3 separate regions of the Homo sapiens genome follow, and regions 1 and 2 are each linked to region 3. The links come from fine-mapping of genetic effects on gene expression. A gene starts in region 3. Each other region holds a variant in brackets. All regions are shown on one strand. Distances are from middle to middle. Region 1 has its middle 18 kb from the start of LINC00865. Region 2 overlaps LOC105378424 (a long non-coding RNA gene). Region 3 holds the start of LINC00865 (long intergenic non-protein coding RNA 865).

Evidence for each region. PIP is the estimated chance that this variant, and not a neighbour inherited with it, causes the effect.
Region 1: its variant is fine-mapped to the expression of LINC00865 in whole blood (TOPMed, PIP 0.95).
Region 2: its variant is fine-mapped to the expression of LINC00865 in whole blood (INTERVAL, PIP above 0.99).

The regions. Positions count from the first base shown.
Region 1 is chr10:89,805,421-89,816,658 of GRCh38, reverse strand. No RefSeq gene overlaps it. Among named protein-coding and RNA genes, the nearest start is that of LINC00865, 18 kb to the left of the region's middle. The variant G/C (reference allele first, on the strand shown) is at 2,931.
Region 2 is chr10:89,817,495-89,824,578 of GRCh38, reverse strand. It overlaps LOC105378424 (a long non-coding RNA gene), which reads left to right. Exons shown (of 3, transcript XR_946196.3): 3 at 813-1,059. Among named protein-coding and RNA genes, the nearest start is that of LINC00865, 8.5 kb to the left of the region's middle. The variant A/TA (reference allele first, on the strand shown) is at 3,801.
Region 3 is chr10:89,825,065-89,836,302 of GRCh38, reverse strand. It overlaps LINC00865 (long intergenic non-protein coding RNA 865), which reads right to left and starts at 6,810. Exons shown (of 4, transcript NR_038382.1): 1 at 6,558-6,810; 2 at 5,999-6,333; 3 at 1,046-1,102. LOC105378424 (a long non-coding RNA gene) reads left to right here and starts at 5,482. Exons shown (of 3, transcript XR_946196.3): 1 at 5,482-6,271; 2 at 10,981-11,120.

The DNA of each region.
Region 1 (11,238 bases), 20 kb after region 3:
AGTAGAGAAAGTATTAAGAGGAGGGAACCATCAATGTTTCTAAATGCAAATGGGTCAAATAAGTTGAGATGAAGCATTGGCAGTTGGATTTAGCAACACGAAAGTCATCCCACACTCAATGAAGACTAGTAGGCCCTCTCAGACTACACCCTTCCCTTGGGTATTCGCTTAATGCAGTTGAATTCCTAATTAGTGACACTTTGGGCATTTACTCAGTGTCTTCTGTGTGGGTCAAGCAGCAAGCTAAGTTCTGGAGATTCAAAGATAGTGAACATGGTTTCTAACCTCAGAGATCTGGTCTTGTGTTGACTGCAACTACTAGGTTACAATGTAGAGTGATGCAGAAGCCACAGTGGGTCCATGTAGCACAGAGAAAAAGCAGTCTGTGTCTTCTGGAGTCAGATTAGCTTGGGTTTGAATCCTAGATCTACTGCTTACTGGCTGGGTAACCTCAGACAAACTGACCTTCCTGAGGCTGTGTCCTCACCTGAAAAATCACATCACCTCAGAGCATTCTGGAGTTGATGAAATGAGATTATGCATGTAAGCACCGGGAAGATGCCTGACACAGAGGATGTGACCAATAAGTGTGACTATTCCTTCTATAGAGAACGAGCAGTGCACTAAGGATGCCCGGAAAAAAACAGAACGATCCTCGCCTTGTAACCCTGCCAGTGGAAATGTCAAAAATGTCATGAGGAAGGTAACACCTGAGCTGGGTCATGAAGGATAAGTAAAAGTTTACCAGGTAGAGGAAAACAAGCTGCTCCAGAGAGGGTTTTCCTGAATAGAATGTGTTGTTTTTTTGATTCTTGCCCAGTCTGGCCCCTCAAACAGCTTTGGACGGTGTCCCTGGGGTTCAGAAAGAAACCCCACTTCAGGGATCAAGAGAGCTAAGACAGGGCTGGGCACAGTGGCTCACGCCTATACTCCTAGCACTTTTAGGAGGCCAAGGCAGGAGGATCATCTGAGGCCAGGAGTTTGAGACCAGCCTGGGCAACATAGGGAGACCCCTTCTCTACAGAAAAATTTAAAAATTAGCCAGGCATGGTGGGGCATGGTGGTGCACTAGCTACTCCTGAGGCTGAGGTGGGAGGATCGCTTGAGCCAGGAGTTCAAGGCTGCATAGTGAACTACAGTTGCACCACTACACTCCAGCCTGGGTGACAAAAAAAAAAAGAGACAGAGAGAGAAAGCTATGACAGCACAGGCCTCTCCACACACTCCTGACTATGCAGGAAACACACCCAGTGGCTAGAGGAGAGGAAAGTTCAAGCAGCCTTTGAAAGAAAAGAGAAGGGTGTCAACCTGGCCAGGAACAGCTCCCAGGGAAGGGAGGGGCAGCGTCCAGGTGTATTCTAAGTGCACAGCATCCTCTTAAGCCCTTGAGCACTGTAGAGGGCATGGTCCCTGGGGCTGAGCAGCATAGCAGCCCTGCAGAGGAGTACTCACTGCCTCCACATATCAGAAAAGCCAAGGCATGGGCTCCTACCCAAGAAGTGCTGTGACCCTGATCAGCAGATTCAAGGAGCTTGAGAATAGCTTTGGAGAAGCCACTGACTCTCCACCGCCAGGAGCTGAGCATCATTCACAGGCCTATAGGTACAAAGGTAGACTGGATACACCAGTGCGTGGGCAAAAGTCGGATGTTATAGATTTCTCTAGGTTGAAGTTAAATTTTCGGTAAGATAATACTGCAAAAATGTTTAAAAACCATCTTCTGTTACTCCCTTCAAAAATTTCTCCTTCCAATTCCCTTGAGGTGACCACCTTTGTGGAGCTCTCTCCCCACTTTGCCTCAATTTTATTCACTGATTTGTTTTTGAAGTGGACTGCGCTTGATAATAAAGCTAGACCAGAAGAATGAGCTACCTTCAGTGGAACTTCAAGCATCCGTGGCTTGTCCGTGGCTGGAAATTTTTGAAAAAGGGGTTCTCCCAATGTATCCCAGCGAAGGAAATCAGACTATTTTACCTCAAAATATACTTCTTTGGCATATTTTTAGATAGCTAGTCAGAGAGGCTGCAGGCCACAGGAACAGCTTTGAACAGCTGTCCTGTTCAAAGATCTGCAGAGAAAATCTACATTAGTGAAACAAACAGCAGAAGCAAACAGGCTTTCTCTGAGGCCCCTTTCATCTCCCTTATCTAGGTCTAGTGAAGATTAACTCAGAAGGTCTGACACTTTTAAAGGTCTGACAGAGAAACAGTGACTCTGTCTATTCCATCTGAGGGCAGCTCCAAGATTACAAGAGAGATTTTTATCTGCGTAACAAGACAGCTTTGGCTTGTCATGCTCTTCTGCCTCACTCTCCCATAGCCTGGGATAAAGAACATGATGAATGTTAGTGCAAGGGCCAAGAGAAAACTTCCCCTTTGCCCTGTGAAGTTTCTCTGAAAATCACTGACGAATGGAGATTAATGAGAGGAAAGACATACCATTATTTGATTATAATTTTATGTGACACAATAGCCTTCAGAAAGGAGACCCAAAGATACAAAGTAACTTTCCATTTTTATGCTTAGGTTCGACAAAGTACAGACAGCAGGTAGAAATTATGATTGAACAAAGAGAGTATAATCTAATGCTAGAAAACTGAGCAGGGAAACCCAGCAAGACCTGTCTGTTTACATGCTTCATGGCCTCTCTGTACAGCATTCCTCCCTTCTGGGTGTGGGGTAGAACCCTTTCTGGAATGGGGGTCTTATGACCCACAGGCAAACAAGGTAGTTCAGATGATTTCTCTATGCCAATTTTTATACAAAAATACAGGAAGGAAGTTAGAGCAATATTTTTAGGTTTTATGGCTGGCTTTGGGGGCAAAGAGTTCTGGTTTCTATGACCCACCTTAAGGAAGAGGGATTCTAGTTTCTATGGTTAGCCTCGGGGGAGAATGAGAGGCCAGAGACAGGTGGGCAGGAGGTCAGAGA[G/C]AGCTGCTTCTGAGGTCTTCATTTTGGGGTTTCGTTTTCTGAGACCCTACATCAGCAATGGTTTTTCACTAGTGAGATAAATGGTCTTCAAGATGTGTGCATTGGCTAAAGTATTTAAAGGCTCTTTCTGTTCTTTGCACAAGTAGGATAAAACCAAAAATCTAGCACGAGCACTAGTCTGTATCTTTTGGAATGTGCCCCATGCTTGACTGCAGACAGAACAGCTACTGATTCAGGGGATTCTTGCTGTCTCTATCCAACTATAAGGTTAGCTGAATCCACCCATTTACAGACAATTTATTTTTGACAAAGGTACCAAGAACACACAATGGGGAAAAGACCGTCTCTTCAATAAATGACGTTGGGACAACTAGATATCCACAAGCAGAGAATAAAATTAGACCCTTATCTCACACCATATACAAAAATCAACTCAAAATGGATTGCAGACTCAAACATAAGACCTAAAATTGTAAAACTACTGGAAGAAAACATAGGCACCTCTAAGACACTGGCTTTGGCAGTGATTTTTTGGATATGACCCCCAACAAACAGCCAACAAAAGTGAAAATGACAAATGGAATTTCGTCAAAGTAAAATGCTTCTGCACATCCAAGGAAACAATCAACAGCATGAAAAGACAACCTATAAAATGGGGGAAAAAATTGCAAACCATATATCTGATAAGGGGTTAATATACAAAATACATAAGGAACTCAATAGCAAGGAAACAACTGGCTAAAAGTAGGTAAAGGAACTGAATAAACATTTCTTAAACAAAGACATACAAATGTCCAATGGCCAATGGTGTATGAAAAGGTACTCAACATCACTAATCATCGCAAAATACAAATTAAAAACCACAATGAAATATGATCTCACACCTGTTAAAATGGCTAATATCAATAAGACAAAAGATAACAAGCGTTGGTGAGGATGTGGAGAAAAGGGAACCCTTTGTGCTGTTGGTGGGAATGTAAATTGATACAGCAATTATGGAAACTAGTATGAACGTTCCTCAAACAATTAAAAATAGTACTAATAGTATGATCCAGCAATCCCACTACTGGGTATATATCCATGGAATATGAAATCAATACATCAGAGAGATATCTGTACTCCCATGTTCATTGCAGCACTATTCATAATAGCCAAGATATGGATTCAACCTAAATGCCCATTAATAAATAAATGGATAAAGAAAACGTGGTACATATACACAATGGAATTCAGCCTTTAAAAAGAAAGAAATCCAGTCATTTGCAACAACATAGGTGAACCTGAGGACATCATGTTAAGTGAAATAAGCTAGGAATAGAGAGATAAATACATTATCTCACTTACATGTGGAATCTAAAAAAGAAGGAGAGAACAGAATGGTGGTTATTGAGGAAAGGGAGGGTTTGATTGGGAATATATTGGTCAAAGGGTACAAAATTGCAGTTAGGAGGAATAAGTTCAAGAGATCTATCATATACATGGAGACTATAGTTAATAACAATGTATTATATTCTTGAAAATTGCTAAGACAGTAGATTTAAGTATTCTCACCATTTAAAAATGACGTCTGTGGATGTAATGCATATGTTAATTAGTCTGATTTAGCCATTCCACAATATATACATGTTTGAAAACATCATATTACACATAATAAATACATATAATTTTTATTTTTCAAAAAATAACTATGCAAGTTACAAATTAAAAAATTTTTAAAAAAATAACATTAGCTACACATTGCCACATTTTCCTCTCATGGACCTTGCATACCAAATATAGTCAGAGAACCTCAAAGATCAGAGCTGATCATCTGGGGGCCTGCTTGCTACTAAATGTCACTATATATGGCAAAATTTGGCCTGAAACTTACTTCCATCATAACCTAGTAGAAAGTTGTGAGCAGAAGGCCCATAACCTTCACCAGCCTCTAATCCTTAGAGACGACAGACATTTCCCAAAAAGGACCTAACAGTTGTACATGAGGAAATTAGCTTGGTCATTTCACAACACCTGCCTCCATGATGCAGACTGGGGGTCACAATCTTGAGGATCTCTTCAGCTGCAACATCCCACAGCTTTTCAATTTACCTAAAATGTGTACAGCATCTACCTCTCATGCCTGGAAGCAGTTATATAACCATGAAACTGCTCCTGGACTTATAATCTTAATTTTAGTGTTGATCTTTTCCACCAACAGGAGATAAAGAAAGCTCCAGGGTTTTTCCAAAGCCAGCAATCCCTGTTTTCAAAGGTGCTATTAAGTAGTTACAGCATAATTGATGTTAACAATCGCTGGAACTCAACAATAAGGCCCCAGGGAGCATGAAGTGGATTTGTTCTCTCCCTCCCTGTCCAAAGAGGCTTCCCCCAAGATCATGCCACCTGAGGGGAGGTATTGTTTGATGCATGAAGCTGCTCCACTCCTTTTCTTCTTACTTGTCTAGATTGAAAGCCTCTTAGTGACAGCTCCCGCTGCTCTTTCAATGGAGGGTCCTTTCGCCTGCAGCAGAAGTTCTGGCACTGCAGGAGAAAACCAACTGGAGACCAGGAAATGGGATTTTAAACTCTCTTTGGGTACCTGGCACTGACAGGTAGTGGTGCCTACATGAACTGCTGGTTCTGTTTCCATGGAAACGTGAAACAGTTTGGACAAACAATGCCAGCATTAACCAGGACTGCCCCAGACAACAAGCTACCTGTCATTTAAAGAGGAATCCTAAATTCAATTCACACCAATATTTTATTGGGCCAAGCATTTTGCTGTTATGAATACAAAGGTAAATGAAACAGACACAGTCCTTGCCCTCAGGAAACTCCAGTCTAGCAGATTGGAGTGTATTCTGAAAAGAAAGATTCAAAGTACGGTAAGATAAACCAAGCAGATTTTACCATGTCTAAAAGGTGTTAAATGAAAAACCTAAAGGGTGAGTAAGAGTAATATAGATAGATAGATAGATAGACAGATAGATAGATAGATAGATAGATGATAGATAGATAGATAGGTAGATAGATAGATAGATAAGTACATATACATATGTTAAAGATCTTTTTTTAAATTTTTTACTGCTAGGGCTCAATAATCAAAAGTGTTTGAGGATCACCATCCTAGAGCAAAAAATTTCACATTAGAGTCACCCAAGATGCCTTTTAAAAGGACATATTCCCAGTCCTCTCCTCTAGCAATCATGTTTGGTAGATTGGGGTGAGTTACAGAAAATTATTTAATAAACACTCCAGGTAATTTTGATGAATACTGCTCTGCAGATTGGTTCCTTAGAGGGTAATTTATTTACTCTGCCACCAGTCCCAAGGGAGATCTTTGATCCTAGTCCACATTTAAACTTAGGATGGGGAATGAATTTTGTTTGATTGTTTATGTGTTTTTGTGGCATTTGAATATTTTGCTTATTGGTTATTGAAAGTGGCCTAAGTGACCTCTCCATCTTCTGGATTTCTCCAATAATTGAAGATTTCTACTTTGTGACTCTGGAGATCCACTTCTGCTATCTAAACCCTTACCTGGGCTTCCCTCAGCCTTGTCCCTGGCTTGTAGCTCCAGAGTTCATCAAAGTTGTGTCTTCCTTTACAATTTGTCTTGGCCCTTTCCAGTAGGGCAGCCAACTATCCCCGTGAGTCTGAAACAGAGAGATTTACTGCAACTTTGGACTTTCAATGCCAACTCCAGGAAAACTCCAGGTGGACCAGAATGAGCGTGTCATCCTAGCAAGAAGCGTGGCTTTCAATAAACAGCTGTGTATTTGATGTTAGAATAGTGGATCAGGGCCAAAAACAAAAATCGTTAATCCTTCCTAGAGGTCTGGTTTCTTCTACTCAATCATTTCTAAGCTTTCTTTGTGTTCATCCATCCAACTTCCACCCAGATCCATGGAAACAAGAACAGTCACAAGGCTATTAAATAAAATTTGAAAGTCTCTTGTCAATTTAACTGACTGACTGCAATGACTTAGAAATGCTAAGTTATACATGACTCTAATGCTGTTTGGAGGTAGAGAATAATTAATAAACCAGTGTCCACATTCCTAAGCATTGTCCATTAACTCAATCAGCTCTTTCTTTTTCTGGCTTTAGATAATTAAGAATAATGTGTCTTCAGTCCTGTGGCTTGAAAGGTTGTAGCTGATCCAAATAGTAGGCCTCCTGCAAAGAACTGCTCTGTTCCCTGTAATCTGTGTTACAGCAAGTATTTTATAAAAGGTTATGTGTGAAATCCCTTCCCCTCCAAGTTGAGTCCAATTCCCCATTCTTGATGGTTGCCTAGTGAGAAAGTGTCACTTTCTGCTCAGGCAAGAAGAAATGAACCAATATTCATTGAGAACCATCTATGCGTTAGGACCTGTCATAGCTATTTTAAAAGCCCAATCTCCCTTCATCCTCAAATCAAACCTAGAAAGAAGGAATGTACAATTCCTTTTTACAAATGAGGAACTCAATGCGCAGAGCATTCAAGGCTACACAGTTAAAAGATGTGAGCAGAGCTCCAACCCCTAGAAACAGTCTGCACTGACTAAGCAACAGCTTCTCCTCCACCGGGCATGCTCTGAGTCTCCCCACAGGGTCCCAGCACCTTGCTCATGTTCAGTTTAATTAACATGAAGCAGGAAAGGGGGTATATCTTTAAAACCCAGTCTCAGTCACAGGAACTCTCAGGATCTCTCACTTCCTCTGAGCAGCATCTGGATTCTCAGACAGCTGGACAGCATGCAGGCACTCTCTCCACTTTGTCTCCCAGAAGCAGCTCATTTTTATCCTGCTGGTTTCTGACTCTGGTAGGGACTCAATACTGCCTTTCTCATGGGCAATCTTCCTCTTGCCAATGCCAGGCTCCTCTCATCAGTCCCAGCTGCCCTCCTAGCTATTTCGGCTGCTGGGCATTTCCAGGGGGTTCTGAAATATTTCCTTGGCACCTGAGGTTATTTCCTTAAAGAGTCCCCCACCCATTATTCCCCTGCTTTTGATAAATAAGGCTTATGAAGAAAGGGTGCTTCTTTATAAACTGACTGATGTATGGAGAAGTAGGTTGGTCTGCCTGTGGTTCTCAAGCTATATATTGTTCACTGGGGTCCTAGAGCTTACCCAGGAATAAGCCTATACCAACCCACAAAACACCACATCCACAAGCTTTCCCTAGTTTTTCTGTATGGCAGGCTTTTGGTCCTCCAACTCTGAAACTTAGGGTTTACTAACATCGCCTCCAAGGAGCTCATTCTCCTCCAGCCAAACTCAAATACCAACTAAGGAACCTGGAAAAAGTCTCCATGTCCTCTTGCGATGTTTCGTATTCCTCTTCCCCATAGAGCTGAGGTATAGTGCAAATGGCCTTTCCAAGAGGAGCCCTGCGTGCCCTCTTACTATCCCCAGTAGAAAACATAAACCTTTTTTTTGAGAACATGTCTCTCTGTCACCCAGGCTGGCGTGCAATGGGGTGATCCTGGCTCACTGCAGCCTTCCCCTCAGGTTTAGGTGATCCTCCCACCTCAGCCTCCTGAGTAGCTGGAACCACGGGCGCACACCGCGAAGTCTGGCTAACTTTTAAAATGTCTGGTCAAGACAAGGTCTCACTATGTTGCCCAGGCTGGACTCAAACTCCTGGGCTCAAGCGATACACCCACCTCGACCTCCCAAAGTGCTGGGATTGCAGGCACCAGCCACTGCGCCTGGCCAAAAAACCTAAATCTTAATTATAACCATGATTATAATAAAAATAAAATGTAAGTACAAGCCCTTTATTTCAACAGTCTCTTTTCAGTGCAGGCTAGGTCCTGGACTCTATAATCTGATAGGGAGCAGAGATTGTCAGGTTTTTATATTTTAAGGGCCATGGAGAAGAAAGGCAGAAAACATCTCCATTGGCAAAATAGAGGAAAAACAAGTAGTTTGGATCTCTTGGTTTTGGATAGTTTACTCTCTGTGATGACATATTAAGGTTGGAGGCTAGATGTCAAACCTAATTCTTAATTTAAACATTGTTCAAATTTCTAAAATGCATCCCAGCCTCTCCTCCCAAAATGAGGAGAAACCATGACATCAAATTACATCTGCTGTAAATTATCTGCTGTTCTTTTTAACTTGGGTGTATTTGATTCAAGCTGATTGCTTGTGTTAGCAGAAGATGCCTCAAAGTATATTTGATCTGTAAGTTGTTTCCTGAGCTACATCATCTGCTGTCTTTGACAGCAATGTCTTATTTCAGATAGCATCCAATTAAGAGCAAAGCCCCACTCCCTTGAACTTGCCTCAAATCACTCACAAGCCCAATACCTGTTAAGTCCACTCTACAGCATTTCTTTCCTCTGCCGTGTTTCTCCATGGTGTTCATTCTCCCTCACTGTAAGTCAATAAATCCAATTCTGTTTGGCTTCAGGTGTGTTCCTGGTGGCTGCCCACTGAAGGCACTGATGGAGTGAATGAGTAAATAAGTTCCAGAAACAACTCTGCTGCTCAGTAACACTAAATCCTTGAATAAACCACCCTTCTATAAAAGAAATCACTCTCCTTTTTTGGGCACCATTTATCATCCAAAAAATAGAATAGCAGATGTGACTTGGATAATCATAAATAGTCTACATGCAAGCATAACATTCACTTTATTTTTATAAATATTTTGATTTCTCTTTTACAAGTACTCGTTCATTCTTAGCAATGACAAAACTAAATATAAGCCAATGTGGAAAACTCTGCCCAGCCTAGTAATTCTCCTTCTATCATTTCAAGTTTAAATGTCATTTTCTTCAGTATTGTCATCCTTGTTATGAGTCACCATGCAGTCCCAAGTTTTCCACTTGACCCACCTGAGCCCTAACCATTTGTTTATAAACGTCCAGGAAACCTTATACTTCACTACAGTGCCACGAGTCTATAGTGTTGTGGAGAAAAATCCAAATATCTGGAGGCACGGAGGTGATAGAGCATTATTCATCAGATTCTTGTTTGTTCCTCTGCTAATTGTCTCTCACTCAACGAGCTGTCATGGATGACCTCCAGAGGCAGCCCTGTTTCCTCCCCTATCAAAGTCAGAGTATCCCGGCTTGCCCCACGGACAGCACAGGCCTCTGGCAGTGGTAACGGGACAAGACAGTCCCCACTCTCTACTCACTTTACAGCTCATTCTGGGACTGACACAAGCTCATGTGTCTCCACTATGGGCTGCAGTGGAGATGCAGTTGTTCCCTTTTCTCCCTCTTGCATCTTCTCAAGTGCACCCCTCTGCAGTCCTCCATGCTCAGTACTCACAAGGTTCCAGGTGCCAGGCAGAATCAATCCAAACCTCCAAATTCATGCACAGCCTCGTGGCAGATTCCCTTGGGCCCCTGCCAGGTCCAGGTCCCCTGATCCCCTCAGAAAAGGGAAAAGGAGAGAGAGACTAGAGGCCTGTGCTCACCTCAGAAGGCCCCTCGCTTCCTCCTGGCACTCTTCATACCTTCTTTTCTAGCCCGCAGAAAAGATGATCCAGCTCAATTTCCCTCAGGCATCATTGCCTGCTGCTCTCCACAAAGAATAACCCCTGAGATAATGAGGTAGAATCCTAGGGTTTCACAGAGTCCATTCTGAAAATTCAGTTTCTTCTTCCTCCACTAAAGAATTTTTACATCATAACATAAAATGAGCCTTGAGACTTCCTGAAGTGACACTGCTCAGTGCCCAGCTTTCTTCTCACAGCCAGAGACAGGAACTAGCCTCCTCATAGGGCTTGATCTAGACTCAACTCCATATGGAAGCATCATTGGCAACTTGGAGCTGGGGTGTGAGTGGAGCTGAGGTGTGAGTGTGAGTGGGATTGGGCCATGTAAATAGTAACAATCATCACACAGACATTTTCTCAGTCTTTTCTCCTTCCTTTAGTTCTGTATGTGACTGTGTGAGAGTCTCTGTGGGGGGTGTGTGTGTGTGGGTGTATAGTCAGTTATATAGTGATTGCAGAGGTTTCAACCTCCATGAAGTGCTGTGATGCTGAGGTTAGTTTCATCCTCTTCTGCTCTTAAGAGAGAGACTGAAGTAACACTAACATAGGAAAGAGAAAGGAATGAATAGCTCTTCTTTCCTTTCACGTATAGAATTGAAAAAATGAGTCATATTCGTCAAGTAAAATCTGCTAGCACAGCTGTGGTTTAAAAGTGAGAAAAGCGGGACTGCCATGGAGATAAAGCAGGTCTTAGATGGTTAACAGGGAGAGAACAAGGAATTGATTAGTTTTAGCATGAGAAACATTGAACAAAACACAGAGTAAAGCCTGGCTATAAAAGTGGGTTCATAAATAAATGTAAAGATTTTCTCTATTAATTAACTCTAA
Region 2 (7,084 bases), 9.6 kb after region 3:
AAAAGATTCCTTCCCACACCAGGTTTGGGGCAACTTCTCTTTTATAGTAGTCAGTTTCAAGGCAGTGACCAGAATTCATATGACAGTCAAGAATTGGAAACAATATAGCAGAGTGTGAGTTTTGCAGTCAAACGGACCTGAGTGGTGAACCTTAGTATTAGCTGATTCATGTGTAAAATGAGGGTAAAATAATAACTACCTTGTTAGGGAGGAGATACTAATAAATACTATTTCATTCTTGTTATTTATTTTCTCTGAATTTTTACAATTGATCACTTTTATATTAATCATTTTTATTCATCATCTTAATAATAAAAAATATTTGTTATTATTTTAAAGCATTATTATTTAAACATATTTATTATTTTTATGTGCTCATAGCAGCCAGGATCTGTATCTCCACATATCATTGCCTATTTCAAGGTCCTGAGGTAAGGTTTTAAAATTTAGAAAACACTTGAACACCAGAATCTGTTAGGCAATGTTATTCAAACACTAAGTTCCCCACACTATGGAAGTCAGGCAAAGTCCTAGACCAAATACCATTCTGAGCAAAGTTTTCACATACAAAATAATGTGTTAGTAGAACTAACTGTCTCTTCCCAGTAGCCCATTGCCATGGTAATCCACCAGACAAAATAGGATCGAAGAAAATATTTCTAATGCTTTCTTGTTCCAAGGCCTTGGCTTGCAATTTTGTCTTCTCAATAGACCATTAGCAAGTTCGTAGTGCCCTGTGCCAAACATCAAAAATTCAGATAAACTCAGGTTTATGTGTCAGTCATATTCTTCCCTTTTCTACCTTCAACCAGGGAATCCATGTGACCATTTTCCAGCCATTCTGGGAGTCCTCTGAGCAGCCAGAACAGAAGCATGGCCCAGCCTCCCCACAGCTGAGTCAGGCCCTTATATAATGAGTCCTATTGTTCCTCAATAAAAGCAATTTCTGTATTTCAAGATGTACGTCAAAGAAACATTTAACGGCAACTCAAACACTGCATTTTTCAATACTGGGTTAAATTCTTTTTTTTTTTTACAATCAGTAATTCATTTACTTCACCTGTATACCTATCACAACAGTCAATCCACTGTTTCATAATTCCTTGTTTGATCATCTGATGCTCCTACTAGCCTGTGAGCTGGGGGGCCGGGAGAGAGTCTGCCTTGCTCAGTGCTTTACATCTGCAGCCCAGCACAGTGCCTGATGGCAAAAGCACAAAGTATAAGTGATCAAATAAATATTCTATTATAATTGATTACTTGAAATTGTGAAAAACAAAATTCACCAGACAATTAAGGAGATGATTTTATTTAGGCTGTTGCAATGAGGAGAATGTTCATTTTGTGAAAGAAAGGGAAGGGGTTCTGGGCTTTTATAGAGTTGGGTAGACAAAGAAGCTATCCTTGAATCATGAGGAGGGATGGAGACAGTTCCTACCTTGGCAAGATGCGAGGACAAGGTATTCTTTTGCAGTTAACCATTTCCCGGGATACAAAAGAATGGGCAAAATTCTCAACAGGTGCTGCTTTCCAGAAACACAAGGCTCAGATAAAGTGCAACATTATCCAAATTAAATATGTAAAGCATAAAGCACAGAGACTAAGAACACGCAATAGCATGATAGGCACTTCTAGCTGGATAAAATGGTTTAGAATAAACAGAAAAGGCAACCTTTCCCTGGACACAATCACTAGAAGTTTCCTGGTGGCAGCTGCTCCCAGGAGTGTCTGAGATCCTTGCCCACTTCTCACTCCAGGCTGACCGCTAGGTTCCCAAATGTCAAAGACCCTCACTTGTCTCCTCCCATCACTCTCACTGCCTACTTCTCAGGTCATGTCCCTTGGAGGCTTCTTCAGTATCTATCACAGTGCCCAAGCTGTCCTGTATAGTAGGTGCTCTCCAAACATATAAATTATATGAACTTACTTATATTATATATTTATTTAGTTATATAAATTTTAATTATATGAGTTTAATTTAATAAACATATAAATTATATGAATTTAATTTAATTCAATTATATGAATTTAATGAATGCATGGCCAAGAGCTGAAGTTTTGGAAAATCTAATGTCATACTGATTATCATGGTTTTCTGTCTTCACGGAGAAAACAATTACATTGGCGAATCTCTGTGACGGCAGATTTGCTCCACCCTGGAGTCTTTTTCCTGTGTCATATTTTAGAATCATCCTTTTAAAATATTTTGAATTTTTCTGTTCTAAATGCATTACACTGCACATGTCCACACTTAAGAGGTCCATGTCGTCCAGGCACAGTGACTCATGCCTGTAATCCCAGCACTTTGGGATGCCCAGGCAGCAGATCACCTGAGGTCAGGAGTTCGAGACCAGCCTGGCCAACATGGTAAAACCCCGTCTCTACTAAAAATACAAAAATTAGCCAGGAGTGGTGGCACGTGCCTGTATTTCTAGCTACTTGGGAGACTGAGGAATCAGAATCACTTGAACCCGGGAGGTGGAGGTTGCAGTGAGTAAAGACTGCGCCATTGCACTCCAGCCTGGGTGACAGAGTGAAACTCTTCTAAAAAAAAATAAAAGTCTATGTTTACTGCTTTCCTACATATTAGAACAGCCTCCTAAATTTTCCCTGCATTGGTACTCATCCACTTAGCTTTTCCATATCCAGAGTAGTTCAGCATTAGCTGCAGACTTTGGAGATTTCACTGTGTGAGCCCTTCTCTGGATCATTTATAAATGTTTTAAATAAGATTGAGCCAGACCAATCCCTGAGGAACCCCACTGTGTTTACCCTTTTCCTTCCAAACAAATGTGCATTTCTACTGATTCACTTTGTTTCCTGTCTCTAAGCCAGTTCTAAATCTGTGACAAGATACCTTTACCCATCCTATGATGACAACAATTGCCATTAAGCAATACTTCAGAGGTCTCACAAAGAACAAAATGTCACCGGGGATACAGAGGCACTTTGTAGTGTGCTGATGTGACACTACCCTCCTCACAGTGCCATTTAAGAACCACTTAACACAAAGGTTAAATATTGTCCCTACAGAAATTCAGGCACAACAGATGATCAACAGATCTGGGATGCAACAGAATATTTCAAACCCAAGTTTCAACAAGAGTATTTATTTCAAATAATGTCAGCTTTTAGTTTAGTAGATGAGGTTTCAGAATTCTGAAGACTTCAGCATGAAGATATGTCCATTTAAGAATGTTGCCTCTTTTGGAATGAGGTTTCAAGCATTGTTTTATAGAAACTTTGGGAGGCTTTGCATGAACTTAAGACTTTTAATATACATGAATGGAAACAAACACTCTTTGGCTCAGTTTCTACCTGTGCTAAATTTGGTGTTCGTTAATTCTTCAGTATTCACTAAGGAATACTCAAGAGCTACTCTTGTACAGAGCCTTTTCTGCTATCTCCACTACAATGGAAACTTCTCAGACTCTAATTACCTGTTCAGAGTTTTTTGTTTGTTTGTTTGTTTGTTTGTTTGTTTTTTAAACAAGGTCTCACTCTGTCGCCCAGGCTGATGTACAGTGATGTGATCTCAGCTCACTGCTACCTCCACCTCTCAGGTTCAAGTGATTCTCCTGCCTCACCCTCCCAAGCAGCTGGGACTACAGGCAGGCACCACCACACCTGGCTAATTTTTGTATTTTTACTAGAGATGGGGTTTTGCCACATTGACCAGGTGGTCTTGAACTCCTGGCTTCATGTGATCCCCTGCCTCAGCCTCCCAAAGTGCTGGGATTACAGGCATGAGCCACCGCACCCAGACCACACACTTTTCTTTTTCTTTTTTTTTTTTTTTT[A/TA]AGAGAGACAGGATCTGTCACCCTGGCTGCCAGGCTGGAGTACAGTGGCGTGATCATGGCTCATTGCAGCCTTGACCTCCTAGGCTTAAGTGATCCTCCCACCTCAGCCTCCCAAGTAGCTGGACTATAGGCATAGGCCACCATGCCTGCCTGATTCTTTTATTAGTTTTTGTAGAGATGGAGTCTCACTATGTTGCCGAGGCTGATCTCAAACTCCTGGGCTCAAGTTATCCTCCTGCCTTAGCCTCCCAAAGTGCTGGGATTACAGGAATGAGCCACCACCCATGGCCTGTTTATATACTTCTTAACAACCAGAATAAAACATTTTTTATGATAGGAATCACAATGTATTCATCTCTATATCACTAGAGCCTGACTAGTAGGTACCTACTACATATTTGAAAAAATGTGTGAATGAATGAATGTATAAGTGAATGACTATCCCCAGTAACCACCCCACTTGAAATAGGAGCCATGAAATGATATATGTTAAAAATATTTAGGTGTTCTGGAAAAAACAAAAAACAAAAAGCAAGGGAGATTAAAGGTGGGGTGTTGATATGGCTTGGCAGTGTCCCCACTCAAATCTCATCTTGAATTGTAGCTTCCATAATTTCCACATGTTGTGGGAGGGACCCAGTGGGAGGTAATTGAATCATGGGGTCAGGTCTTTCCCTTGCTGTTCTCATGACAGTGAATAAGTCTCACGAGATCTGATAATTATGTAAAGAAGAGTTCCCCTGCACAAATTCTCTCTCTTCCCTGACGCCACGTAAGATGTGCCTTTCACCTTCTGCCATGATTTTGAGGCCTCCCCAGCCACATGGAACTGTGAGCGAATTAAGCCTCTTCCCTTTATAAATTACCCAGTCTGTGGTATGTCTCTATTAGCAGCATGAGAACAGACTAATACAGTAAATTGGTACCAGGTAGTGGGGTACTGCTGTAAAGATACCCCAAAATGTGGAAGTGACTTTGGAACTGGGTAACAGGCAGAGGTTGGAACAGTTTGGAGGGCTCAGAAGAAGACAGGAAAATGTGGGAAAGTTTGGAACTTCCTAGAGACTTGTTGAATGGCTTTGACCAAAATGCTGATAATGATATAGTCAATGAAATCTAGGCTGAGGTGGTCTCAGATGGAGGTGAGGAACTTGTTGAGAACTGGAGTAAAGGTAACTCTTGCTATGTTTTATCAAAGAGACTGGTGGAATTTTGCCCCTGCCCTAGAGATCTGTGGAACTTTGAATTTAAGAGAGATAATTTAGGGTATCTGGTGGAAGAAATTTCTAAGTGGCAAAGAATTCAAGAGGTGATTTGGGTGCTATTTAAAGCATTCAGTTTTAAAAGAAACACAGAGCATAAAAGTTTGGAAAAGTTGCAGCCTGATGATGTGATAGAAAAAAAAAAAATTTTCTGAGGAGAAATTCAAGCCAGCTGCAGAAATTTGCATAAGTAACGAGGAGCCAAATGTTAATCACCAAGACAATGGGGAAAATGTCTCCAGGGCATGTCAGACACCTTTGTGGCAGCCCTTCCCATCACAGGTCCAGAGGCCTAGGAGGAAAAAATGGTTTTGGGGGCCAGGCCGAGGACCCCCTGCTGTGTGCAGCCTAGGGACTTGGTGCCCTGCATCCAAGCTGCTCTAGCCATGGCTAAAAGGGGCCATGGCCTTCAGAGGGTGAAAGCCCCAAGCCTTGGCAGCTTCCATGTGGTGTTGAGCCTGTGGGCACACAGAAGTCAAGAATTGAAGTTTGGGAACTTCCGCCTGATTTCAGAAGATGTATGGAAATGCCTAGATGCCAAGGCAGAAGTTTGCTGCAGGGTGGGGCCCTCACGGAGAACCTTTGCTAGGGCAGTGCAGAAAAGAAATGTGGGGTTGGAGCCCCCACACAGAATCCCCAGTGGGGCACTGTCTAGTGGAGCTGTGAGAAGAGGGCCACGGTCCTTCAGACCCAAGAATGGTAGATCCATCAACAGCTTGCACCATGCCCAGGGAAAAGTTGCAGACAACATCAGCCTGTGAAAGCAGCCAGGAGGGAGGCTATAACCTGCAAAGCCACGAGGGCAGAGGTGCCCAAGACTATGGAAGTCCACCTCTTGCATCAGCATGACCTGGATGTGAGACATGGAGTCAAAGGAGATCATTTTGGAGCTTTAAGATTTGACTGCCCTGCTGTATTTCAGATCTGCATGGGGCCAGTAACCACTTCATTTTGGCCAGTTTCTCCCATTTGGAACAGCTATATTTACCCAATGCCTGTACCCCCTTGTATCTAGGAAGTAACTAACTTGCTGTTGATGTTACAGGCTCATAAGTGGAAGGGACTTGCCTTGTCTCAGATGAGACTTTGGACTTTTGAGTTAATGCTGAAATGTGTTAAGACTTTGGGGGACTGTTGGGAAGGCATAATTGGTTTTGAAATGCGAGGACATGAGATTTGGGAGGGGCCAGGGCAGAATGATATGGTTTGGCTGTGTCCCCATCTAAATCTCATCTTGAATTGTAGCTCTGATAATTCCCACGTGTCATTTGAGGGACCCTATGGGAGGTAATTGAATCATAAGATCACGTCTTTCCCATGCTATTCTTGTGACAGTGAATAAGTCTTACAAGATCTGATGGTTTTATAAAGGGGAGTTCCCCTGCACATATTCTCTCTCTTCCCTGCCACCATGTAAGATGTGCCTTTCACCTTCTGCCATGATTGTGAGGCCTCCCCAGCCACGTGGAACTGTGGGTCCATCAAACCTCTTTTTCTTTATAAATTACACAATCTTGAGTATGTCTTTATCAGCAGCATGAAAACGGATTAATGCAGGTGTGAAGGTAGTTGGCAAAATTAAGTGGGTGGTCCCAGTAAGCCTTATTGAGAAAGTAACATTCTAGAAAAGTTACAAAGAAGGTGGGAGATTGGGCCAGGTATACATGTTGGGTGTAAAGAAATGCAAAGGATATGGTGAGGGTAAAGACTCACGGCCAGGGCACTACTGGCACTGGGGAAGAAGCGAGAGGCCCGTGTAGCTGGGAAAGAGATGGGGACACTAGAAGATGAGGTCAGGGAGGTAAGGAGAACAATGAGGATGGGTGTCAGTGGGCCATTGTAAGCCCCTTAGCTTTTACTTTTAGTGTAACTGGATTTTGAACAGAGAAACAACATGCTCTGACTTATATTTTAAAAGATCACTCTTGCTACTGTGTTCAGAAAACTTTATGGAGTTTTGAGTGGTGAGCTAAGGGGAGAACATTTAGAAAACTAACTTCTCCTAACCCGTGTGAGAGATAA
Region 3 (11,238 bases):
TTCAGCTGATACCAGAAGATTCAGGTAGCAGAGGCCAAAGAGAGTAATATGAGATTTAAGTTAATAAATACATAACTAAAGGAGATGACATAGAGGAAGAGAAGGTCATCCATTCATCAGCTGCAAGCAACAGAAACCAACTCAGGTTAATTTCAATGGGAAAGGTGTTTGTGATAATGATATTGGGTGGATTACATTGCCAGCATGTATGAAGAGCCAGGTTCTATGAAACACAGGCTCACCAAGACATGACACAGCTCACCTAATGTTGACATCCCTACCAACACTAACAAGCAAAAGACTCTACAGCCTGCACCACCAACCCCTCCACTACTGCACTGTGACACTGCCTCTAGCTCTGCTGCCACAGCTGCACTAGGAATTCAGTCTGAATGGAGGCTCTCAGTCCCTGCTTCTTTGAGTTACTGGTTCCTGCTTCCATGGCTGAATCTGATTAGTGGAATGTACCTCACTTGGTCATGTCCTAGCTCCAAGGGAGTCTAGGCAAGCAAGAGTTTGGCATTTTCATCTCCCATTGGGTGAGGCAGTCTCTCCTCCACACTATGGCTAATAATGTTGAAAAAGATTCCAAACATACACTGGATTTTAGATGCTAAGCAGAGCTAAAAATTCACAAATGTCCATAAGAAAATGTAAATCAGATTGGGACCAGTGAATGTCCTATCTATAATATTACTAGACTGATTTCCTTCTGTGGCTGTGATCCACAGTACCAGAAGGAAATTATAAAAATATAAAAATGTTCCATTTTGTTTGTAAGTGATTTAGCCTTCTGAGAAAACTCAATGATTAATATTTATTTGGGTATTTGTTTAAATATTATTGTCGACATGATAAATTTTTTATAAAACGTGTGTGATATATGTATATATGTAGGTATAGATATGTATGGATAGACACATGATAGATAAGACACTCAAACACTGACAATATCATTATATCATTTGACACTCATCTTGATCCAGCTATAACTAGAGCTAAAAAAAACTCTTGGAATTTCCAGGTATTGAAACAAATAAATTACCTTTTGTGTTTCAGCTAGTTTGAGATGACTTTCTGTGTCACTTGTACCCAACAGAGTCTGGAATAAAAAAAAAATTTAAATATTATTGATACTTAACATTTGTTTATTCTATTTGGACTTATAAATGGACTTATATGAGAGATTTTTAATTAGTATCAGAAGTAAATGAGTTAATAAAAACTGAAATGATTGTAGATTTATTTTTATAACTTTTATGTCTACAGCTATGATAAATTTTTATATTTTAAATTTCTATATATACAGTTTTTTTGTTTTTTGTTGTTGTTGTTTGTTTGTTTCTTTTTTTTTTTTTTGAGATACAGTCTTGCTCTATCACCCAGGCTAGAGTACAATGGCATGATCTTGGCTCACTGCAACCTCCACCTCCCAGATTCAAGTGATTCTCATGCCTCAGCCTCCCAAGTAGCTAGGATTACAGGCATGTGCCACCACGCCCAGCTAATTTTTGTATTTTTGGTAGAGATGGGGTTTCATGATGTTAGTCAGTGGATCTTGAACTCCTGGCTTCAAGTGATCTGCCCGCCTAGGCCTCCCAAAGTGCTGGGATTACAGGCATGAATCGCCACACCCCAACATAAATTTTCTATATTTTTAAGGTATAGTTTCTCCTAATGTGTGTAGGTAGGACATAATCATGCTTTACAAAAAGGAGAGATGTTCTGCTGGATTTTGAAAAATTATTTTTAAGTTCCAAGCAAGACAGGTTCTATTTGTTCCTGGAAAGGTAATTGTTTTGACATAGATTTAATGTCATTGTGTGAAGAAAGAATATATTTTAACACTTAAGCTACTTATATGTGAGGAAAAGGAGTAAGGAAGATAAGTTTTTGATTAAATAAATATAGTAATAGCATAAAATTAAGGCTCAACTATGCATCAGACTCTAGGGCTGATACCATCTTATCCTTAACACAGACATACCACACACATAGTTACTTTGCCCTAAGGATTCTAGAGCACTAAAATAGTGTATAAAAATGTATATAAGGCCAGACACGGTGGCTCAAGCCTATAGTCCCAGCATGTTGGGAGGTCAAGGTATATGAGGTCAGGAGTTTGAGACAAGCCTGGCCAACATGGAGAAACACATCTCTACTAAAGATACAAAAATTAGCTGGGCAGGGTGGTGTCCATGTAATTCTAGCTACTCAGGAGACTGAGGGATGAGAATTGCCTGCACCCGGGAGGCAGAGGTTGCAGTGAGCAGAGATTGGGCCACTGCACTCCAGCCTGGGTGACAGTCAGACTCCATCTCAAAAAAATAAAAAATAAATGTATACAAGAATGTTATGAGACACTTCCCACTAATCATCAGAAAATGAACATGGACATATACCTTTACTCCCTCCCATAGCTCACTATAAGGATCCTAAAGATATTAATTTAAAAGGTCAAACCACAGAATGAATAGAAGTGGCAAAGAGACAACAGCAATACAATTTTGGAAGCAACAATGCAGATGTTTTATTAGCAGTTTTTAGCAAAGATGAGAAAGCGAAAACCTAAGCCAGCAGTGGCAGAAATATAAACAGAGTAGTTTCTGCTGCAAATCCCTCAAAAGCCCTGAATTGGAGGTGGCATGTGCCCAATGGTGGAACAGGTAAGATGAAAAATAGGGGAACTGGAAGTCTCAATACTTAGCAGTCCATATCCACTCCCCACTGGCAGTAAACTGGTTTATTCTCCAGAGATGTCAATTCAGCAAAGCTCTGGACTTTAGGACCAGAGTCGCCCTAAAGGCAGTAAGACTGTTCTGAAAACCAGGGAGCAAGTGACAGGGTACATTCCAAACAGACTATTTGACCCCCTTATCGATAAGGATCCCAGAATATTGATGGCTAATTTAGGGTGCAGCATTCAGGCTTGGTTTATTTTCTTCTTTCTATATGTTTTTCATTCTTTACAATGAACATATATGATGTACGCAGTTTTAAAAAATCTAGGAGGTGAATAATTTTCAACCCAGAATTCTATATCCAGCCAAACTATCTGTTGTGCTACTCCAAAATATAAAGGATTATTGAGCTGCAGGTAATTAAGAAGAAGCAGATGCAGAGAAGCTCTCTGCCATCCCTCTATTTGCCTAAAAGCAGGACATACAAAAACTAAAAGTATTCTGCCTCCCTTCTACCAGGGAGACCAAAAGATAACCACATAAGACAACTTTAAACTGTTACCACCTGGAGATGATACCAGGGAAATCTCCATTAACAAACATTACTAGCTAGCCTTTATTTGCTATGCATTTGCCTTCCCACAAGTTGCCACTCCTAAAGTTCTTTTCCTTTACCTCTCCAGAAATTTGCTGTTCATTATTGAAGATGCTATATCAGCCAGAATTCAAAGCCAATTCTGAGAACTACTCATTCCCTGGGTGTCTCTGGTGTATGTATGAAATACACATGTTAATACACTTCTGTTTTTCTCTTGTTGATCTGTCTTGTATTACAGAAGTTCATTTCAACTAAGAACTTACTGTTGAAGAAAATGATTACTCTTCCTCTATACAACCAATTATGAGAGTAGATTGAAACATTTATCTCACATGCAAGGCCTCATATTTACCTCCAGACATGCTATAGCAGAGCCTTCTGAAAGATGCACTCTATCAAAATGAAGGCGTACTACCAGAAAGAAAACCAGCCACATATTCACAGAAATAGGGGATCCAATATATGAGAGAAAAAAATTGAATTGTCAGGATAACAGTAAGAAAACATCTCAGGGCCTACAGAATAAGTAGTCCAGATTGGAACAGGAGAAAAGAGGGGTTCAGAAGCAAAGAATGCCTTCCGTAGGGCCGACTCATCCATTAGGCTGAGTAGGCATAGTGCTTGAGGGCCCATGACGCTGTTAGGAATTTACAAAAATGTCGTCATTTTAATTTCCTTTAAAATTAGGAGATAAAATTAATATAATAACAGTGACTATATGATAATAAATCCACCCTGATCATATTTACCTTTATACCAACGTGGCTGTAAAATAATTTTTATTTTTTATGGAGGAAGGAGCTCATGAAGGCAATGTACCTAGGACCGTGGCCTCCAGGAAAAAAAGGAAAATAAAAGAAACTGGATAGTTTCATTTGAATGTATCAAAAGGCACTTAAGACTTGTCAGAATTTGGCAGAATGAACTGATAATAACTACTTAGAAAACTAACTAAACAAAAATCAAGGCAATGCATAGTCAAGGAAAAACAAAAGCAAAGGTCTACAAAAAAGAAGTAAACCTAATACACTACAAGTTCATCTGTGAATAATATTTACATTGTCAAAATAAACACTAAACACTGATAAGATTTTTAAAAATATGATATTGCAAGATTAAGAAATGAAAGAAGAAGCTACATGCCCAGTTGTAAGACAGCCAACTCCTCATCTTTTGTAGAAGAAAGGCAATAGATAAGAACCAAACTGAAAAATAAATAGTATGAGAGGTATATTATAGGCTTGTGACAGTAAACAATAGAAAAAAAAACAGTTAAAAGAGATGAAAGTTGTTGCCTTTGGAGAGTGAGAATCAGAGATGGAGAAGAGTGGATAATGGTGTAATTTGCATTACATGACATACAACTTTTTGACTTTATGAACAAGAACCTAAGTTACCTTAATGAAATTTACAATTAAAGAACTTTAAGGATTGTTGAGAGTTAATATAATTAAATGAAGAATTTTCTACTTTTCTAAGTGTTTATGTATTAATTTTTTTAACATTTAAGAAGTGTGAAAAATGATTGAATTACATGGTAGCCTACTTAGATGCCATGAAAGATGTGCTCATGGGACATTAAAGAGATTGAGTAGACTGTGAGGCCAAAGTGAAATTCCAACCTGATGGAAGTGAACAGGGAATACTTCAAAAAGAGAAGAATGACTGAAAATGAGGAAAGTGAAAAATGCTAAAACTGGTTAAACAGAAGGGTCAGGAACAGTCAATATGTTATAGTCAGTATGGAAGAATACAATATACATTATGTATATGAGCTTTTCATGAGAAGACATGGGGGAAGAGTTAAACAATAGAATAACAACCATAATATTTTATTAATAACTATTATGAGCTGCTAAAATGGCATATATTTGGTAGGATATTAGTATATAAAAAAGGCTTGAGGTATTTAAAAATCTGTTCCCAGAAAATTATCCCCAAAAGTCAAAATATATATTTCATAGTTCTTTTAAATCCCTGACTTTCCAGCCACATATTCATACCACAATGCTGCACACTAAGCTGTAGATGGTTGAGTGATATGGTTTTGAAAAGATAATAAAAGAAAATTGAAAAGACACTCTTAGGTAAAACAAAAAGAAAATATTTCTCTCAGACAATTTAAAACTTAGGTAGTATAAGATAATTAGGGTTTTTAAAGAAGTCACTTTACAGAAGAAAGGAAATAAAAATTTTGCTGACCATGGCATATTTAAGAAAAAAAATCCAAGCAAAGAGGGGAAGAGTTATGATGAGCAGTGAGCAGTGAGGTATAAGCCCAACACTTTTCAGCCCACTGAAGTGTCCTGCCTACAGAACTCAAGGCAATTTCAGACTTCCTATCGACTGACATAGGTTTGGGGGTGCGGGAAATGACTCAAATGCTGCCCAAAATATATTTTTAAAAACTTTTTCCCTGATAAGCTTTTTAAGCCAGATAATGAAACCAAGTTGTTCGTGTTTCATATTTGAGAATCTAAGTACTGGATAAATAATAAGGGCTATCAATTATTGGGGGCTTTAATAATTCTTCAAACATTTAATGAGTGTCTTCTGGGTGCCAGGCGCTGGGACTATAGCTGTAAACTAAACAGGTGGCTACCTCCACAGAGTTTATAGTCTAAGGATTAAAAAATTAGACCTTGCACAATAGTGGGAGGAGACGGGGAAGTAAGGCCACCGTTGGAAGGTGGAGAATTGGAGAAAAGTCTCTATTCACCTCTCCTGAAGTAGTCAAGTGAAGGAAAAGTCACAGGTTACATATAGAGAACTGGGAACATCCAGTTGCAAGAGTGAGACCACAACAGGAGCTGGCGAAGAAGTGCATGGAAGGCTGTTGCCTCTGCATTGACTGTGGGTTTGGGGCTGCTGTTGGTCAGCAAGGCAGGCAGAAAAGGACACCAGCTGGAGTCAAGACAGAGGCAGGCGAGGACAAGCTAGAGCCCACAAGCAGTACATCTACACTTCTCTCCTTCCGCACCAGCTACACAGAGTAACGGTTACTCTTTCACTTCTGCTTCCCAAATCTGGCATAGATATATCTTTTGGCCAAACCTGATATGGAGACATAATGGAAATGAAGTTCTAGCTTAGGCCAGTTGATACAAAACCAGCACGGTCCATCCCTTGTCAAATTGGCGGCCGAGAGCACCTCCTTTTACCATATTTAATTTCCAGTAGCAAAATCTTGCTTCAACCTAAGGTGCAACTAACCCTGCTACAACTAGAAACACCCTAAACCTCTCTCCAATGAGGATATGAAGTCCCGTAGGACTTACCGCATAGGTCACTTTATCTTTGGGGAAAGTTCATCCTTTTCTAGCTGAGTCACACTGCCCTTTTAATATCCTGAGATACATGCTGAACTACAATACTATTGACACGTTTTATGTTCAATAGTAGAATGGATGGAGGAAGAGAAAGAAAATGAACCAGTATTATATTTGCAAAATGAAAATCAATCCTTCTGAAATATTTAAACGGTTTCTGCCTTTGTAGGAGACCGTTTGGTAACGTATCGAAATCCATAACGGCCGTGATTGGCGCGCAAGCGCGGGGCTGCCCAGGGGCCCTCCTTGCCTCCCGCCTTATGGGCCCGGAAGGTCCTTCTTTCCCCTAGCTTGGACTCCAGCTCCTGCCCGCGGAGCTTGGTCTAGCTGCGGGAAGCATTGAAGCACAAGGAGAGTACTTTTGCACAATGACCTCCAAATTTTACTTTGAGGACTTTATCATAGTGAAACTACCATGGCTGTAGCTTATATCGGTTTTTTTTTAAATGAAAATAACCTAATTATGCAACAGCGGGAGGGTTGCTTGAGTAAATTATTGTTAACTCCAAATGACAGAATAATGTATGAAACAATTAAAAATAATTTGTTAAAACAATGAATGACTTAGAAAGATTTTTATTATTAAGTGAGAATAAAAGCAGAAACCTAAAAGATATATTCAGTATGAGCTCATTTCTGTAAAATGATGTATTTTACAGAGGAGAATAAAGTTTAAAGCATGCAAACCAACGTGGTAACTGTATTAAACCTACTTAATAACAAGAAGCTATTCATAGTAAATAAGTTGAATTTATAGAAAGAAATTTACTATGAGGACAAAAAAGGATAAACAGGAAAATATTTGCAAAACAGATAATCTAACGTATAACCAGTTCCTTCAATTAAATAAGAAAATAAGAATCCAATAGCAAAAATGAGGACATGTTTAGAAAAAGAAATAAAACATTTTAAACATGTGAAGTGTTTTATTTCATTTCTGCTAAGAAAAAGCAAATTAAAACAAAAATCTAATATTATTTTAACCATCAGAAAGCTTGACACATTGAGTTGACAAGAGTAAAGGAAAACAGGCATCCCGATATATTGCCAGTGGGAGTAGAAATTGCTGACACCTCTATGAAAAAAATACGCAAGCCAAAATTTTCAATAATGTGCCCCTAAACCCAACAATTTTACTTTAAAGTGTAGACATTCATTGCAGCATTTTTTATAATCTGAAAAAAACAGAAACAAATGTACAGATAAGAACTGGTTAAATAAATTATGGCAAAGCCATACAATGAAATACTCTGTGATGATTAAAAATAGTAAGGCACTTCTTCATGCAATTATATGGAAAGATCCCCAATATATATCAAGTAAAGGATTTTAGGTATATAATGGTATAATTAAACCCTACCATTTTTGTAAAAATAAAATATGTGTGTATACACACATATCAGGTATGCACACCCACATTCCTATATGGGCATAAAACATCTCTAGAATGGAACAACAACAAAAAATTGATAAATTGCTCCCTCTATAATTTTGAGGAAGCTCCCAACAGCTAATTAATTTTTGTTCTTTGCCCTAAACCTGCCCCTTTTTTCATTTTTTTCATTTCCAAAAAGGTACTACCATTGATTGTCTCAGAAAAGTAGAAATGAGATTTGTTCCTTCTCTTGTCCTCACCCAACCCCCATTAAATCAGTTATCAAATCCTGCTAACTTTATTTCCAAAACAAGTCTCAACTTTATCTACTTGTATTACAGATGTTGGCTATTTATCAACGTTTTCTGTTCCTTTCAACCTTAGTCATAGACGTCCTGATTTTCAACTAGACCTGTAGTAACCTAGAGTAAACATTTTATTGTCTATCTTCCATTGTAATCACATGGGGCCATGCTACTGAGTGCTTTCCAATGAGCTGTAACTGCAAGCATCACGTATAATTTCTAGAAATTCTCTTACAGGAAAGGGATGTATCTTTTTTCCTCCCTTCATCATTCACGTTGTCTGGGATGAAAACAACATGACTGGAATTAAAGCAGCCACCGTCAATGAGGAGGTTGAAGTCACGTATTGACAAAATGGAAGGAATCTGGTCCCTAAGAATGGTGGAGCCACCAATTGAATTCTAGGCTATGTACAGATTTCAGTTATGCGAGAGAGGAATAAATATCTGTCCAAGCCACTGTAATTTGGAGTTTCAGTTACAGCTACTCCAAATCCCAAATGATAAAATGTCTCTGTATTTCAATGGCCAACCACCTGACCAAAGCCCAGTCCATTTCACCTGAACTGCTGCAACAGCTTCCTAACTGTTCTATCCACATCCCACCTTGACCTCTTCCTCTGCTGAATTCTCCACACCTCAATAAGAACATGCTTGTAATATATATATGTATATATACGTATATATACATATATATGTATATATACATATATATGTGTGTATATATATATATATATATATATATGATCGAATCCTCCCTTTTTTTTACAATCCTTTAAGAAATTCCCATTAGTTTTAGAGTAAGTTTAAATTCTCAACATAGCCTATTCAATCTTACATTGTCTGGCTCCTAAAACTTCAGCTCATCCCTCGCTGCTTCCCCCCCTCACTCACTGGGCTCCAATCACATGGAAGTTTCAGATATCCTGTGCCCTCTACTGTTAGATTCACCTTAAATCTTCTGTCTCCAGTCCCTACTGCCTACTAAGTCTACTAATCAAATCTTTCGGGTCTCTGGTAAAATGCAACTTCCTCAGGAATTATAGTCAGGAATCATGACTATACTTTCTCATGACATCTTGGATTATGCCTTATAGTCCTTATTTCCTGCATGGTTAGCATGGTTATTTGTGCAATTATTCCTTTAATGTAGAGGTTTCAAATGGTATGTAGGACTAATCTGCTTACAGATGCATTCCATGGTCCACACAGTATTTCTTTTGAAAAGCTTTAATCAGTGCATTCTCTTTTTGGTTTGTCACACTTCCCATCAATTCACACCATTTCACAAATTTAGGTCCCTTTCCTGCCTCCTGCAGGCCTTTGCACATTTGGCCTGCCTCTCCTACTAAACTAGAGTCTCCATGAGGGTAAGGATGGTGCCTGTCTTCCTCATCACTCTATGCCCACTATCTGACATCCTTAAGACCTATCAAGGTGCTCTGGAAATCCTTGCCTAAGGAATAAAGCCAATGAATGAGCTGTTTTCATTGCCATTATTAGCAGCCTTTTTCTTCCTTTGGTTTTATTTTTAATACCAGATACCATAAGTAGATAAGTGTGGTGGAAGTATCCATTTGGTAACTATTTCACATGAAATTTTGAACAAATTTAGCACAAGACTCTGAACCTTAAGGCAAACTTTCACTTTTTATCCACTGGACTAAATAGAAAGTAAATTCATATAGTTACACTTTTGAATTTTGAGAAGTTTACAAAAATATTTCATCCAGGCCATTCTATTTCTATTCCCTAGGAGTTAGGCACCTCACTGACAGTGCCCCCAATTCTCCAAAGGCTTTTTAGCTCAAGGTTTAAAAAATGAAATGTAACTTTTAAAAAAGCAATCTGTCCTCCCTGATGGCAACTCCAAAAAATAAACCCAGATCACACTGCTTAAACGTTTTATGACAGCAAACATTGTGCTTAATACAAAACAGGAATTTTCAATTTGTCAATAATAAGAAAATGAAGATGCAAAACAAAATGTCTCTGTATTTTCCAGATATTTTATTTTTATGTTTCATATTTTCTTATTCTTCAAAGGGACAGAAGTTTGAGGTTTTGTATTTATTTTCTAAAGCTGTGGCCTTCTATATTTTGACAGAAAGTATTAGGGCTGAGTTACTTCTAAAAATTCCAGGTTCTCCACTCTTATAACACATTTACATTGACTTGAAAATTTTTCATTGCACCTACACACACATTTTTTGTAGGTTTTCCTCACTTGGTGAAGACTGCAATGTTGTTAATACCTCTGAAGCATTTTAGAGTTACCCAAACTCTAGATGAAAATTCTACAATAAGGAAATTCAGCAGGATGCTAAATAAGCAATATTGCTCTTTCTCTATAATTGTTGTCAAAATGTTAAAAGCTAAGCCTTCCAGCCAAAACAAAAAGAAATGATAATTTTCTGGATTGGATCAATGGTCCATTCAGGCCAATAGCATCTTCAACAATTCATTTGGGAGGTGATTTGCCCCTAACTATAATGTTAACAAGAACAGTGTTTCTCCAAGCATTTCAGAGTCTCTTAATCATGGTTCTTTTATTTGTGAATATATAAAAACATTTTTAAACTCATAATATTTCCCTTGACTTACTGTCCACCAGAGGAAGTGGTATTTTCTCTTACTTGGCTTAAGCATTCTTAAGCTGCAAAGGTAACTAACTACTCTCTCTTGTGTTCCAGGATTCAGTGAAACGGTCTCTATTGATAGCCAGATCAGACTGTGAATGAATGACCTTTTAAAACAGCCAGGTGTTTATCTCCCAGTGCATCCTTCCCTCTCTTCAGGATAAATCTTGGACAGTTAAGCTTATCCTCATGAGGTATCCTTCCCATGATATTTTTCCTGAAAAATTCCACTTGGCCTTTGAGAAGTGACTCACAACCATCTAAGGAAAAAGATACTCCAAAACAGGGCTCCAACTGGGTGGGCCTAGGCCA